Linked DNA regions of Homo sapiens. The protein of the gene in region 2 interacts with the protein of the main gene of each other region in a pairwise test. Each region holds a gene or a part of one and is shown on either strand. Other genes may lie near its edges.

Evidence for each region.
Region 1: the proteins of THOC5 (region 2) and CFAP418 interact in a two-hybrid assay, tested with the Homo sapiens proteins (one study listed by IntAct).

Annotation. Positions count from the first base shown.
Region 1 is NC_000008.11:95,258,937-95,266,302, forward strand, and holds part of CFAP418 (cilia- and flagella-associated protein 418), read right to left. Parts: intron 4,839-7,366; coding exon 4,751-4,838; intron 1,597-4,750; coding exon 1,532-1,596; intron 970-1,531; coding exon 904-969; intron 1-903. UniProt on the Homo sapiens protein: May be involved in photoreceptor outer segment disk morphogenesis.
Region 2 is NC_000022.11:29,536,637-29,544,002, forward strand, and holds part of THOC5 (THO complex subunit 5), read right to left. Parts: intron 6,907-7,366; coding exon 6,793-6,906; intron 6,321-6,792; coding exon 6,223-6,320; intron 2,841-6,222; coding exon 2,694-2,840; intron 103-2,693; coding exon 1-102. UniProt on the Homo sapiens protein: Component of the THO subcomplex of the TREX complex which is thought to couple mRNA transcription, processing and nuclear export, and which specifically associates with spliced mRNA and not with unspliced pre-mRNA.

The DNA.
Region 1 (7,366 bases), on a different chromosome or scaffold from region 2:
TGTAAGTACACTCTATGATGTTTGTACATGAGGAAGTCATAATGACTTATGACTAATGACATATTTCTCAGAATGTATCCTTGTTGGTGACACTTGACTATACAACAGTTAGCCCTCCAGAAATGTGGTCAACATGCAATCATATAACTTAGGCCATTCTTTCTTAAAAAATTAACAGAAAATAAGTGTTTTAGAAATAATTAGATAAAAGTATTTTAATAAAGTAAGTTAGGTAAGTAGACCTCTGCCAAAAATAGAACCAAAAGCAGCAGGAGAGTAGGGTTTGCTTAAAGCCAAACTGTTTGCCCACATTATGAAAATGCCAATGGAATGTGCTAGGACTATGGGGCTAATATGGGTTTGGGGTAGGTGGCATCATGACTATAAGACTGCCCAGAAAGAGGTACTGAGTGAGAAAGTGGAGGCAGGAAGGGCAGGGAAGAGACAAAGAACATAAGGTTTTTGTTTTTGAAATATGTAAACATGTAAAATCAAGCAACTACGCTTGAGAATGTTTTGGGCAATGCAGACCTGTAGCTTTGCATGCTAATTGGCCAAGGCAGTGTGGGTAAGGCATCATGTATCTGCATGGCCACTTTGCTTCCACTGCCTGGAAGGAAGTTCACTCTCCTGTGTCCTGTGGAAACAAAGCTGGGACTGGAGTGATCCAGGCATTTCAAGTGGGGCTTAGAAAAGGGCATAAAATGAATAATATGTACCTAACATCACAGCTTTCAATAGCTATCTCCCAAGAATAAAAAACAAAGAATTCTTAGATTAGCTAATAAAAATACCTCTCCTTATAAAACAGATTGATGTGAAGATGATAACTACATTTTAACAATGGGGCATCCATTTGGAAAAAACCTAGTAAGAAAGTATAATACATTTCTGACAACCTACCTCCATGAAATATTTGTTCCAATCCCACATGGAATAGAGCTTCCACCAAGGTACACCGGACTGCAACTAGATGTGTTCAACAGATGCAAAAATATGAAGTTATAACAAAAAATAGGAGAAGTTAATTTGGCCATGTTAAAAAAATTTTTGGTTTTATTGACTTTATGTTCTTGTAATCAAATTGTCTATTTTCCCTAGCAAGCCAACCATTTCAAAGAAGAGATATTTATTGTAGGATCACTGCTTTATTGGATATAACCTGTACATTCAGGAACACTCAAGGAATTAAAATGAGTAAAAGAAAAATGTGTTTGCCAAATAATGTAAGGGACAAAGTAAATACTGAAGAATATAACAGAACATTAATTTTGAGAAACTGTTCACACTTTTTTTAAATGGCAGAAAATTATTTACAATAGCAATAATCCCCCATTTAATTTCCTTTACACAAAGGGGGTCACAGACCATAAGAACACTGAAGATATTGCTATTGGTCTTTCTCCTGAAGGCCAACCAATGCTTTGTTGTTCAATGTCACTGCTGTTTAAATGGTAACAAAATCTACTAGACTATGCTCATAGTGTTTGCTCAATAGTGTGTATAATTCACCAAAGCAATCTCAACTTACCTTTTACCAAGGCCTTCAATGGAAGCTCTGACAGATGTGTTACCTGAAGATTTAGATTTTAATTTCTGTTAAAAAAGCAAAACAATAAAAGGCCATGAGTAACTTAGAAAACTGTAACATGAAAACTAATATTCCTTATAACAAGAATATTTTCTAAATGACTTAAATACAAATTTTCATGGCATCATTTTTAAGTTTCTGAAATAAAAACAATGATCAAAACCTTTTAAAGGCAAAAGGGAAGTAGAACTCCCTAAGGAATGTGCAAATTACTCTACTAACTTTTAGGCTAGGAAACTGATATATTGCCATTATTAGCATGCTAAGATTTAGAGTCACTTTATAACTCTTCAGTTAATATTACAGTTCAATGATTTAATATGAAGGACCTGCTATTTAAAACTTCATTCTAGAAAAATTCAATTGAGGAGGAAAAAAACCTCAGACTCATTTTTAAAGGCTGTGAATGTGCGTCATATGAATTAAAATTAACCAAGCTCCTGTGTAACTTCAGGAATATTAATTTTGATCAAATGGAATGGCATCAACCAATAAATGTGCAAGGAAAATGTAGAACTACCTAGTCACAACCATACAGTAGTTCCTATATGGTTACATAGTATCATCATCATTAGCAAGCATTTATTAAGTGTTAACTGGTATATGGTACCAAACAACATAAACCAACCACACACTAGGACCACCGCCAAGGAGAGGAAGTGAGATGGAGAAAAGGCAATTTAAACTATGCAGAGACATGCCTTCATTTTACATAGTGGGTGAGGAAATTTAATAGAGGCGAAAATATTGTTTTACTATGTCTCTCAACTCTTATTTGATGTTAAGCAGAAATGGAAAAAATTTTGGTACATGTTTGAAAAATAATAATATGCACGAATCTTTCTGTTTGGGGAGCATGTTTCATGTGCCATCCAGACTCAGGCTTATGACTCTAAGCTGGCACACTCTGAGGTTTGTTGTTGGTTCCTGGGCTTTCTTGTGTGGGTCTGGGAACAGTTCAGAAATGCGACAGAATGGGAGAGCAGGAGGTGCGGTAAGGGAGTAGTATTGTCAGGGCATAATATAGCCTCTAATGACAACGTTGGCATAGACTATCTGTTTATCTATGTTTCTTTTGTTAATACATGTTTTTTTTTCCCAATAAATGTTTTACTTAGACCTGCTGTCTCCTTTGAAGGTTGGAAAACTGGACATAATACATAACTAAAAAAGGAAAAGATCATGATTAAAAATTTACTTCTTCATGATTATAAGAGCTACTTTTATTTCAAATTAGTATATCTTAAAGCCAAACCAGAGAAGTACTTATCTTCTTCTGAAACACCTTAACTGAAAAGATAGCGCCTCATATACAGATATGCACCCTATTGGTACTTAATAAACAATGAATTGCTCAGATGATTAATGAAGAGCAACAAAATGATGTAATTTTTTTCTACCATTAATTAGTACTACTAATTGGCATTACTATTCAGTGCTTATGCACTTACTCAGTATTTAGGAAGTATTCTATTTGCAGGGTACAGGTGACCCTTGAACAACATGCGTTTCAACTGCACAAGTCCACTTATATGTGGAATTTTTCCAACCAAACAAGGATCAAAAATACAGTATTTGTGGCATGCGAAACCCCACGTACAGAGGGCCAACTTTTCATAAGGTGGGTTCTGTAAGGCTGACTGTGGAACTTGAGTATGTATGGATTTTGGTATATGTGGGGGTCCTGGAACCAATCCCTTGAGTATACCAAGGAATGACTGTATTTAATATTGCTATTGTGTTTACATATTATTCAACTTGGCATGTGCTTATTAATTTACTTCAGGTGAATTGAAAAAGTTTAATTTTCTAAAATCTATACTAGTCACTTGATTTTTAGTCTGGGTGACAAAAATGTAAGTGGTCCCTATCCATATTCTTACCACAACCATTACCTAGGTATTTTCAGTCCACTGTTTTGCTTTTATCTTCCCTATCCTTTAAAAAACAAAACCCTGGTACTATAGTTATTTCTTAAATTTTTTTGTGATCTTTGTAAATTAGACTTCTATTTTTGTATCTTTCTTTTAAATCTAACAGATAATGCTTGACACACACCATACTGATAAAAATTAAAATACATAAATTCTCATATACTGCCCAGTATGAAAAATGTTAAGTGATAAAGTCACTTTGGAAAACAATTTGGCAATGGGTAGAAAAGTTGAAGATGAGCACACCTTATGACCTAGGAATTCCTCTTCTAGCTTTATACACCCTAGAGAAACTTCCGTATATGGGTAAAAGAAGCCATGTAAAGATATCTAATGAAGGCGTAATCACTGGTTTTCCCTGTGTACATGTCAAAATTTGTATGCCTTTTCTCCGATTAAAAAAAAGGTATCTGATGAAGCACTATTTGTAATAGCAAACAACTGAGCACAATCTAAATGTCCATCATCAGGGAAGTGGATAAACTGTGGCAGAGTTATACAATGGACTACTGTACACAGTTAGAATTGTTTATGGTTATGTACATATGTAATGAAAGTATAAATGTATGGATGGAAAGGATAAATGGTTATCTTTGGGAAGGAAGGCAATAGAATAGGATTTAGAGAGGTCTTAAACTATATCTTTAATTTGTACTTCTTTTTAAAAAAAAAGGTCCAGTAAAGCAAATGTGGCAAAACATTAATATATGTTTAATATGGGTGGCTGTCATGGTATGTTCAGTATATAGGTTGCTGTTATATTACTTTCTGAACTTTTTATGCAGCTAAAATAGACATACAAACATTTAAAAAACTGAAATATTAACAATTTAGTCATTGCTTCATGGGATAAGAGCAATGGCATTGCATGTGAGGTGCTAAGCACATTCCTACAATGAAAGCTGTTTGTTTTTGGCCTTTTAGAAAAGTGTCCTTAGATACTACAAATAAATACAAGTGACCAGCTTGATGTGTGAGTTGACTTCTATGCTAACAGCTTTTCTAATTTGTTATTCTTACTGAGAAATGCACAGGGAAACACATACTGAGAGTTTCTGATATTTTACTGCTTCTACTGCTCTTTAAGTGTAATAATTTCTTTAAGTAATTGTATTTCTCAGAATTCAAAAGATAATGGGTAGCTACTTGTGTCATCTTTAAGACTATTCTAAACATGTCTTGAAATAATGACAGAATTACTACATATTTATAACACTTGACTTACAGAGGGTTTTTTGTCCAAGTTGGGCTCTTCAAGTATTTCATTAATAAGACTGTCAAGATCATCTTCTTTTTTAAATGTTTCTGTTGATCTGAAAAGAAGACATACACAAAGAAAACTTACCTGAGGTTTATGAGCAGAGAAAGCTAGTATCAGAAGAGTTTTGCTTAAAGTCCATTATTAGAGCTGATAATAGAAAGATAAAAGTGATTTTAATTTTTTTCACTGTGGATATAGTCTAAGTTTGTTGAGACAAAGATATACTTTATCAGGTACAAATTCACATATGTTCTATACTATTACATACTTGATATTACATACTTCAGACATTTACAGCTATATACATTATATTCAAGAGGAAGCTGGGTATGTACTTATCTGAATTACATAAAGCATGTATTTAATACAAAATATGTGCAATAAGCAGAACCTGATATTATAAACAAAGATAATTTTAACGAGTCTTCCTGACTTTTCCCCTAAAGGTTGCATTGTAAGTCAACCATACCTCTTTACTAGAGGGGCCGAAGGTCATGTAATCAAATGACCACCTCCACCCCAAAAAAAGGTGCTATTTGTTAGACAGAATATCTCAACTACTCAACTACCTCTACCTTCTGCAGGCAAAGCCATCACTGGATTATTAATATAAACCACTACTGCATAGAACTTCTATTTAATAGCTGATGCTAAATAGCTAATAACTAAATAGTAAGTATTTACTGAATACTTACTATAACCCAGGCATTGTCCTTAGTCTTTACATGAGTATATCTTTATTTAACCCCAGTTTTATAGATGAAGAAAAGGCACTGAGAGATTCAGAAATCTGTTCAAGGTCATATAAGTAGTGGGAGAAAAGGCTTGGAATTGAATCTAGGGCAGTCCGTGCACTTAATACTATACAAGATTAACTTTCTTTAGCGTTTGTATGAAGTAGATGCTGTACATCAACTTTATAACTTCATTAAATTATTTGTTTTAGAAGACAAGTTTTTTAGTCAAACTCTCTAATTTCAGAAATGTATTTACTCTGACAATTTTTAACATAGGCCTTCTTCATTACATCTTGGAGTAAAATAATTTAACCTGATATAAGAAAAGCAAGAGACGGCTGCCTACTACCTAATGGTTGATTCTGTCTCCAGGCTTAGCCTCTTCAGTTGTACTGTAACTTTTACCCTTAATGTCTTTCACTGTATACTGGTTTCTTCCTTTGACTTAGAGGTATGCTCAAGGCTTGCTTCTTCAAAGAGACACTTCAAAAAACCCCTGTCTTGAAGCTGCCACCCTTTCTTACTCACTACTGAAGAATAGTCTATATCCACGATTTCTACTTCCTTACAAGTAGACTAGATTTAGAATCAGTTGGGTGCTAATCCTAGGCGGGGGTTTCTCAGCCTTGGAATTATGGACATTTTGGGTCAGATAATTCTCTGGGGTGTGTATGTGGGGGCAGGAGACTGTTGTATATTGCAGGACATTTTACAGCATCTACCCACTAGATGCTATTAAATAATAGCACACCCTTCCCCAGGTGCGACAATAAAAAATGTCTCCAGACATTGCCAAATGCCCCTTGGGTGGCAAAATCATCACCAGTCTAGAGATACCGACTTAGTTTAAATTATTTAATCTCTCTGAAACTCAAATATTTTATCTATAAAAATGATATCTAGATGACTATTTAAAATTTCTTTCAGGTATAATATTCTACTTCTGGCCTCTAATCCCTCAACTATAGTGAAACTCTTCTCTCGAAGGTTTCCACTGCCCAAATCACTACAATCTAATGGTGGTTCTCAGTTCCAATCCTCTTTAATCTTTCAGAAGCATCTGACACTGTTGGGTACCAATTCCTTATATTTCTTTTTCGATAAGAGGTTGCTAAGATGTCCTCTTAAAATTCTCTCCTTTGGCTTTCAGGACATACTTTCCGGGTTCTCCTCCCTCATGCAATTTCACAATTTCAAGAATCAGATACATCCAAACTCCACCAACCTAATCAGTACTGTTACAGATCCAAATTACCAGCTTACATAAGATTCTGGTCTGTTCTTAGATCACACAATTTCAAAATGCCTACACTTGCCTATGCTTTGCTATAGTAATAACAATAAAGTCAACATTTCATTGAGAACTCATAATTTTAAAGGACTGTATAAGACTCTTTTTGGTCTTTTGATGTGACAATAATCTCAATCAAATGTTAATAAGCTTTTACTGGTTCCCTTTCTGACTCTGTTTCTGACATTCTAATCTTTTAAAGATATAGTTTCTGCTGAAAATAAAACATATATTTAAGATAAAATATAAACACTTAAACCTATAATTAAATGTGAGAGGTATTATATAGAAAGCTTAAATCTAGATCTACTATGTCCTTGTGATTTAGCAATATGACTTTAGGCAAGTAACTAAGCATTGATTTGGTCAATGAAATGGGGATAACAGTATTCACGCATGGGATTGTGAAGATTAAATGAAATAACATATACAAAGCACTTAGCATACAGAAAGAGCTCAATAAATGTTGGCTGTTATTATAGTTATCATCTAGAAAGCTATATTATCTTTAAATATTCCCATCTGTATCATCCTGAACCACTTTATTCCTAT
Region 2 (7,366 bases):
TTGAGGCGGGGCTGGAGGCTGCTCAGGTACTCCTTCTTCACCTCAATCTCCTTGAGAATCTTCTCCTTGTTAGATAGGCACTCTCGGTACTTCTCTGCCAGCCTGTTGGGGGAGGAAAGAGCATTGTCACCTGATATCCCCCAGTGATACCTCAACATGCCTGTTCACTGTCAGACTCCACCTAATAGTAGCAGCCATGATTAACTGCCAATGTTTATCCAGCACTCAATGTGTGCCAGGTACTTTGGTGAGCTCTTTAAAAGCATAATTACATTTAATACTTATAAAGACCCTGGAAGACAGGGACTTTGCTTATCCCCAAAGGAGGAAACCAAGGCTCAGGCAAGTAGATAACTTGCCCAAGGGCATCCAGCTAAGAACAAACACTGCGCTAGGCTTTGGATCCATGTCTCTTGCTCTCCAGAGGCTCTGTCTGCTCTGTAACCACTAGGGAATACACATGCCATCTTCTGCTCCATTTCTTGCTTGAGAGGTAAGACCTAAAACTTTCACAAACATGGACTTAGCAGCTATATAACCCAAAAGAGGCCCATGGACTGGCCTGGTTAGCACAGGGTGGGAACAGATTCTGGACCAGTGCCACAAGAATGCAGCACTGATGGCTGAGTCAGTGCCCAGCACAATCAGTGGACTGGACAGCGGAGTGACAGGTCAGCCCCATCTGCTAAGACACTGACACAAATTTCCTAAGAACCAGACTCGGCCGGGAATGGTGGCTCATGCCTGTAATTCCAGCACTTTGGGAGGCCCAGGCAGGCGGATCACCTGAGGTCAAGAGTTCGAGACCAGCCTGGCCAACATGGTGAAACCCGTCTCTACTAAAATACAAAAATTAGCTGGGCACAGTGACATGCGCCTGTAATCCCAGCTACTCAGGAGGCTGAGACAGGAGAATCGCTTAAACTGGGGAGGCGGAGGTGAAACCCCCAACTCTATTAAAAATACAAAAATTGGCCGGGCACAGTGGCTCACGCCTGTAATCCCAACACTTTGGGAAGCCGAGGCAGGTGAATCACGAGGTCAAGAGGTAGAGACCATCCTGGCCAACATGGTGAAACCCCGCTTCTACTAAAAATACAAAAATTAGCTGGGCGTGGTGGCACACGCCTTGTAGTCCCAGCTTCTCAGGAGGCTGAGGCAGGAGAATTGGTTGAACCAGGGAGGTGGAGGTTGCAGCAAGCCGAGATCACACCATTGCATTCCAGCCTGGGCGACAAGAGTGAAACTCTGTGTCAAAAAAATAAATAAATAAATAGATAAATAAATAAATAAACCTCTTTATTCATATAGAAAAGTTTATACCTAAAGTGTGACTTGAAGCATTATTTATTTATTTATTTTTTGAGACGGAGTCTCATTCTGTCGCCCAGGCTAGAGTGCAGTGGCGCAATCTCGGCTCACTGCAACCTCTGCCTCCCGGCTTCACGCCATTCTCCTGCCTCAGCCTCCTGAGTAGCTGGGACTACAGGCACCCGCCACCATGCCCGGCTAATTTTTTATATTTTTAGTAGAGACGGGGTTTCACCATGTTAGCCAGGATGGTCTCGATCTCCTGACCTTGTGATCCGCCTGCCTTGGCCTCCCAAAGTGCTGGGATTACAGACGTGAGCCACCTCGCCTGGCTGAAGCATTATTTATGACAGCAAAAAATGGAAACAACCTAAAATCCAACAGGGGAATAATTTTGTGCATTTTTCTATACACCAGAATATACACTAGAATGTTGCACAACCTCCTGAAATAGTGTTTACAAAGCTTTCTGCCATAGGCATACACTTACAGATAAGGGGAAAGGCAAATACAAAATTAGATTTATGGTACAAAAGATAAGGTCTTCGGCATTAAAATTTCAAGGAGAGACCAGGCATGGTAACTCACACCTGTAATCCCAGCACTTTGGGAGGCCAAGGTGGGAGGATCACTTGAAGCCAGGAATTCAAGACCAGCCTGGGTAACAGAGTGAGAACCCTGCTCTACAAAAATAAAAATATTAGCCAGGCATGGTGGCAGGCACCCATAGTCCTGGCTACTTGGGAGGCTGAGGCAGAAGGATCGCTTGAGCCCAGGAGGTCAAGGCTGAAGTGAGTCGTGATAGTGCCACAGCACTCCATCCTGAGCAATAGAGTGAAACGCCATCTCTTTGGAAAAAAAAAAAAAAAAAAAAAAAAAAGGGCCAGGCACAGTGGCTCACGTCTGTAATCCCAGCACTTTGGGAAGCCAAGGCAGGCAGATCACTTGAGGTCAGGAGTTTGAGATCAGCCTAGCCAACATGGTGAAACCCCATCTCTACAAAAAATACAAATAATAGATGGGCGTGGTGGTGCACACCTACCACCCAGCTACTCGGGAGGCTGAGGACTGAGAATCACTTGAACCTGGGAGGCAGAGGTTGCAGTGAACTGAGATCACACCACCGCACTCCAGCCTGGGAGACAGAGTGAGACTCCATCTCAAAAAAAAAAAAAAAAAAAAAACCCTTAAGCAATTATAACCCCAACCCCATCCATGATGAGGTTGGTGAAGTTTAAACTATCCAGTGTGATTTAATCATAAAATGGGATTTGGTCTTAGAAACTATTCTGAGAGTTGCACAGTGTTTTGCTGCCTTATCCTGGGTCATGACAAAGCACTGACACTTTGTGGTTAAAAGGTCAGGAAGGAGGAAATGCTACCTTTTCCGCTGCTCCAGCTCCCAGTCCAGACGTGCCAGTGTTTGCTGGTGAGGGTCTCCCATGGTGACTTCGGCCTTGCTGATATCTGGTGGAGCCTCCTTATAAAACTCCTCTAAACTGACCAGATCAATTTCTTCATGCTTTGACCTACAGACAAAAACATGACATCAAGCTGCTGTTCTCAGGAAACTAAACTGTAGTTTAAGCAGGCCCAAAGTTATCCCCAACATATGCCTGCTTAGTCCTGGTCTACAGGATCCTGGAATCCAGTCTTCTCCACAAATGCTCATTAGCAGATATTTCAGTGTGAAGAAAGGTAGTTGGTGACATGCCATAGGATCCTTATCCATGCTGTCCAACCTTTTTACCCATGAATTAAAGACTCGGAAGGGATTCTTATCAAATTTACAAATGTCTCCAAGCTGAGCAGGAGAACTACTAGCTAAAAAGTCAAGTAAAAACACTACAGCCTGGGCCTAGGCTGTAGGGTTGAAAGCAAGACATAATTTAACAGGAATAAATACAAGGGTCTGCACTTAAGTTCAAGACATTAGCCGCGTAAGAACAGAATGAGGAAGATCCAGCATGGGAGAACTGGATGGAAAAAGATCTAGAGGCTTAAACCGTTGCATGCATAGTGATTTATATGTATAAAAGAAAAGAAATTCTGCCAGGCGCGGTGGCTCACCCCTGTAATCCCAGCACCTTGGGAGGCCAAGGCAGGTGGATTACCTGAGGTCAGGAGTTCGAGACCAGCCTGATCAACAAGGTGAAACCCCGTCTCTACTAAAAATTAGCTGGGCGTGGTGACGCATGCCTGTAATCCCAGCTACTTAGGAGGCTGAGGCAGGAGAATCGCTCGAACCCAGGAGGCAGAGGTTGCGGTGAGCCAGGATTGCGCCATTGCACTCCAGCCTGGGAGACAGAGCGAGACTCCATCTCAAAAAAATCCAACCCTCTTTGCTGTATTAACATAGTTGACTGCTCAGGTTATGGTCAGATGACAGTAATGATAACGGCAGCTATCATATATTAATAAGCACCCACTATATGTCATCCTCACCTCATTTAAGCCTCACAACAACTCTAAGAGGTGGGGAGTTTTAATCTCCATTTTTTGACTGAGATGGAGGCTTCTATCAGTAAGCAGCTTGCCCAAGGTCCACAGCTAGGGAGTGGCCAAGCTGGGATTTGAACCCAGGCTGTGTAACTTCAAGGCCTATGCTCCTTCCATGTGGCCGTCTGCCTCCCAACAGGCGCAAGTTCCACTGTATTCTGGGTTTGTCAGTTTCCATTTGGGTGATGATTACAGACCAGTGCATCACATTATTTTGTTTTTGATACCTTTTTAATTTGGAAATAGTTTAAGACTCCAAGAAGTTTCAAAAATAATACTTAGAATGTATTTCCTCCATGTACCCTTCACCCAATGATACTATCTTATCTAACCACATTATACATTGTCAAAACCAGGAACTGACACTGGTACAATATTATTAACTCAAGTACAGACCTGATGCAGATTTCACCTCTATTCATATTTAACTATTGTTATGTGACGATTTTGTGGAACAGATAAAGATGCCTCTCAAAAATCAGCATCAGGGCTGGGCACAGTGGCTCATGCCTGTAATTCTAGCACTTTGGGAGGTCGAAATGGGTGCATCATCTGAAGTCAGGAGTTTGAGACCAGCCTGGCCAACATGGTGAAACCCTGTCTTTACTAAAAATACGAAAATTAGCTGGGTGTGGTGGCTCATGCATGCAATCGCTTGAACCCAGGAGGCAGAGGTTGCAATGAGCCAAGATCACGCCACCACACTCCAGCCTGGGCAACAGAGCGAGACTTTATCTTTAAAAAAAAAAGAAAAGAAAAGAAAAGAAAAAAATCAGCATCAGGCCAGGCTTGGTGGCTTACACCTTTAATCTTACCCTTTTGGGAGGCCAAGGCAGGTGGATCATTTGCAACCAGGAGTTTGAGACTAGCCCAGCATGGCAAAACCCTATCACTACTAAAAATACAAAAAATTAGCCAGGCATGGTGGTGCATGCCAATAGTCCCAGCTACTCAGGAGGCTGAAATGGGAGGATCATCTGAGCCAAGTCAAGTCAAGGCTGCAGTGAGCCAGGATTGTGCCACCACACCAGCCTGGGTGACAGGAGTGAGACCCTGTCTCAAAAAAAAAAAAAAAAAAAGACAAAAAACAAAACAATCAATCAGTATCATGATTATTAAAAATATTCCGGACCCACCGGGTGTGGTGGCTCACGCCTGTAATCCCAGCACTTTGGGAGGCTGAGGCAGGCGGATCATAAGATCAGGAGATCGAGACCATCCTGGCTAACACGGTGAAACCCTGTCTCTACTAAAAACACGAAATATTAGCCGGGCGTGGTGGCAAGCGCCTGTAGTCCCAGCTACTCGGGAGGCTGAGGCAGGAGAATGGCGTGAACCCGGGAGGCGGAGCTTGCAGTGAGCCGAGATCACGCCACTGCACTCCAGCCTGGGCGACAGAGCAAGACTCCATCTCCAAAAAAAAAAAAAAAAAAAAAAAAAAAAAAAAATATATATATATATATATATATATATATATCCTGGACCCAATGTCTAATAGGGCCCCTGCATATGTCAAGTTTGTTACAGATAAAAGCTGCTTTCAGTTTGCATAAACAGGTCTGATCAAGTGAGAACACTTCCCCTTCTCTTCCCGTTTACTCCTTCCTCCTTCTCATCTCTCAGCTTGGTTTTGAGGAAGGACACTGACAAACTGTAGTTTCTTCACCTGAAGGCAGCTAAGCAGCAAGAAATTCAGGTTCCAAAGAATAAAATCCATTTGCAGAAATGAACTGCTGGGACTACAGAAAGGAAAACTGGGCCAAAAGGTTAAAAGAATGTGACTGGAAGTGAGTTGCTCCCATACAACATGCCCAGAAATCAAACTGGTAATGTAAAGACCCCTGATAGGGAGAGAGACCTGCTTTTTACCAAGTGCAGAGCTCAAAACTCAAAAAGGTCAGAGAGACTTCTGAGGTTCTTTATGCAGCCTGAAATCACGGCTTGCAATTCTCCCACATTCACCCTTGCAATTTGCCCTTCTCCCAGATCCTACAGTTTTCTAAGCTCATCAGATTTCTTTTTAAAGAGAGACTTAGGCTGGGAGCGGTGGCTCACGCCTGTAATCCCAGCACTTTGGGAGGCCGAGGCGGGAGGACCACCTGAGGTCAGGAGTTCGAGAACAGCCTGGCCAACATGGCAAAACCCCGTCTCTACTAAAAATACAAAAATTAGCTGGATGTGGAGGTGGGCGCCTGCAATCCCAGCTACTCAGAAGGCTGAGGCAGGAGAATTGCTTGAACCCGGGAGGTGGAGGTTGCAGTGAGCTGAGATTGCGCCACTGCACTCCAGCCTGGGTGACAGGGCAAGACTCCGTCTCAAAAAAAAAAAAGAAACAGACTTACAGTGAGCTACATGGGAAAAAGCAGTTACCGAAAGACCACATGTGCCAAAGCCCTGTCCTCCCAAACTCACTTAAACTCCAAACATTTGGTGATCTCCTTCTGTAGGTGCATCACCTCATACAACAGGTTCTGGAGCTGCAGATGATAGGCATCTACTTTCTGCTTAGCCTGAAAGGAAAATACGATCAGAAGTGAGCAGGGCAAGTCAGGATGGAGCAGAGGAGAGGGTCAGCAAACTAAGAGAAGGTGTAAAGGGAATAAAGAAGGGGATGGGGCTGGGTGCAGTGGCTCACGCCTGTAATCCCAGCACTTTGGGAGGCCGAGGCGAGTGGATCACCTGAGCTCAGGAGTTCAAGACAAGCCTGGCCAACAAGGTGAAACCCCATCTCTACTAAAAAATACAAAAATTAGCCAGGCATGGTGGTGGGAGGTGCCTGTAATCCCAGCTACTTAGGAGGCTGAGGCAGGAGAATCGCTTGAAGCTGGGAGGCAGAGGATGTGGTGAGCTGAGATCGTGCCACTGCACTCTAGCCTGGGGGACAGAACGAGACTCTGTCTCAAAAAAAAAAAAAAAAAAAAAAAAAGAAGGGGATGGGGAGGAGGAAGGAGGAAGGTTAAAATTAAACCTTTTAACTACTACCTCGTGGGTCTGATCTCTTCCTTTCTTCAACCTGATGTGGGCTAATCGGTTAAGCTTCTTTAGAGTCATGAAATGCACACAGCTCTGGATCCTCCGTTCTTCTATTTCTATTGCCTGTGGGCAAAGAAAACAGTAAAGCCCACTGACGACAGGGCTAGCTCAGCTTCCTTCAGTCCTTCACCACTGACCCATCCTCATCTGGGGCCAAAAACGGCACCGGAGGGAGCTCAGAACCATGAGAAGGGTCATGAAGAAAATAAGAGGATGATTGTATAAGGAAAATGATTAAGAATCTCGGGCAAAAAAAAGTAATTTCTGCTTGGACTAGAGTAACAGGAATTGAAGATGGAATAAGGGCAGCAAAGGCACAATCTATCTCTACAGATCCTACACAGAGATCCCAGCAATAGTAACATCTTGTCATAAAATTTGACCTCTATAAATAACATTACAGGATAACTTAAATGGAAAATAACAGAATTATAGCCATAAAGCTTGGCTAGAATAGATTGAATGCAATAATTCTAACAAAACTTGTCAGCATAAGCACAAATACGTGAGATTCCTGGGGGAA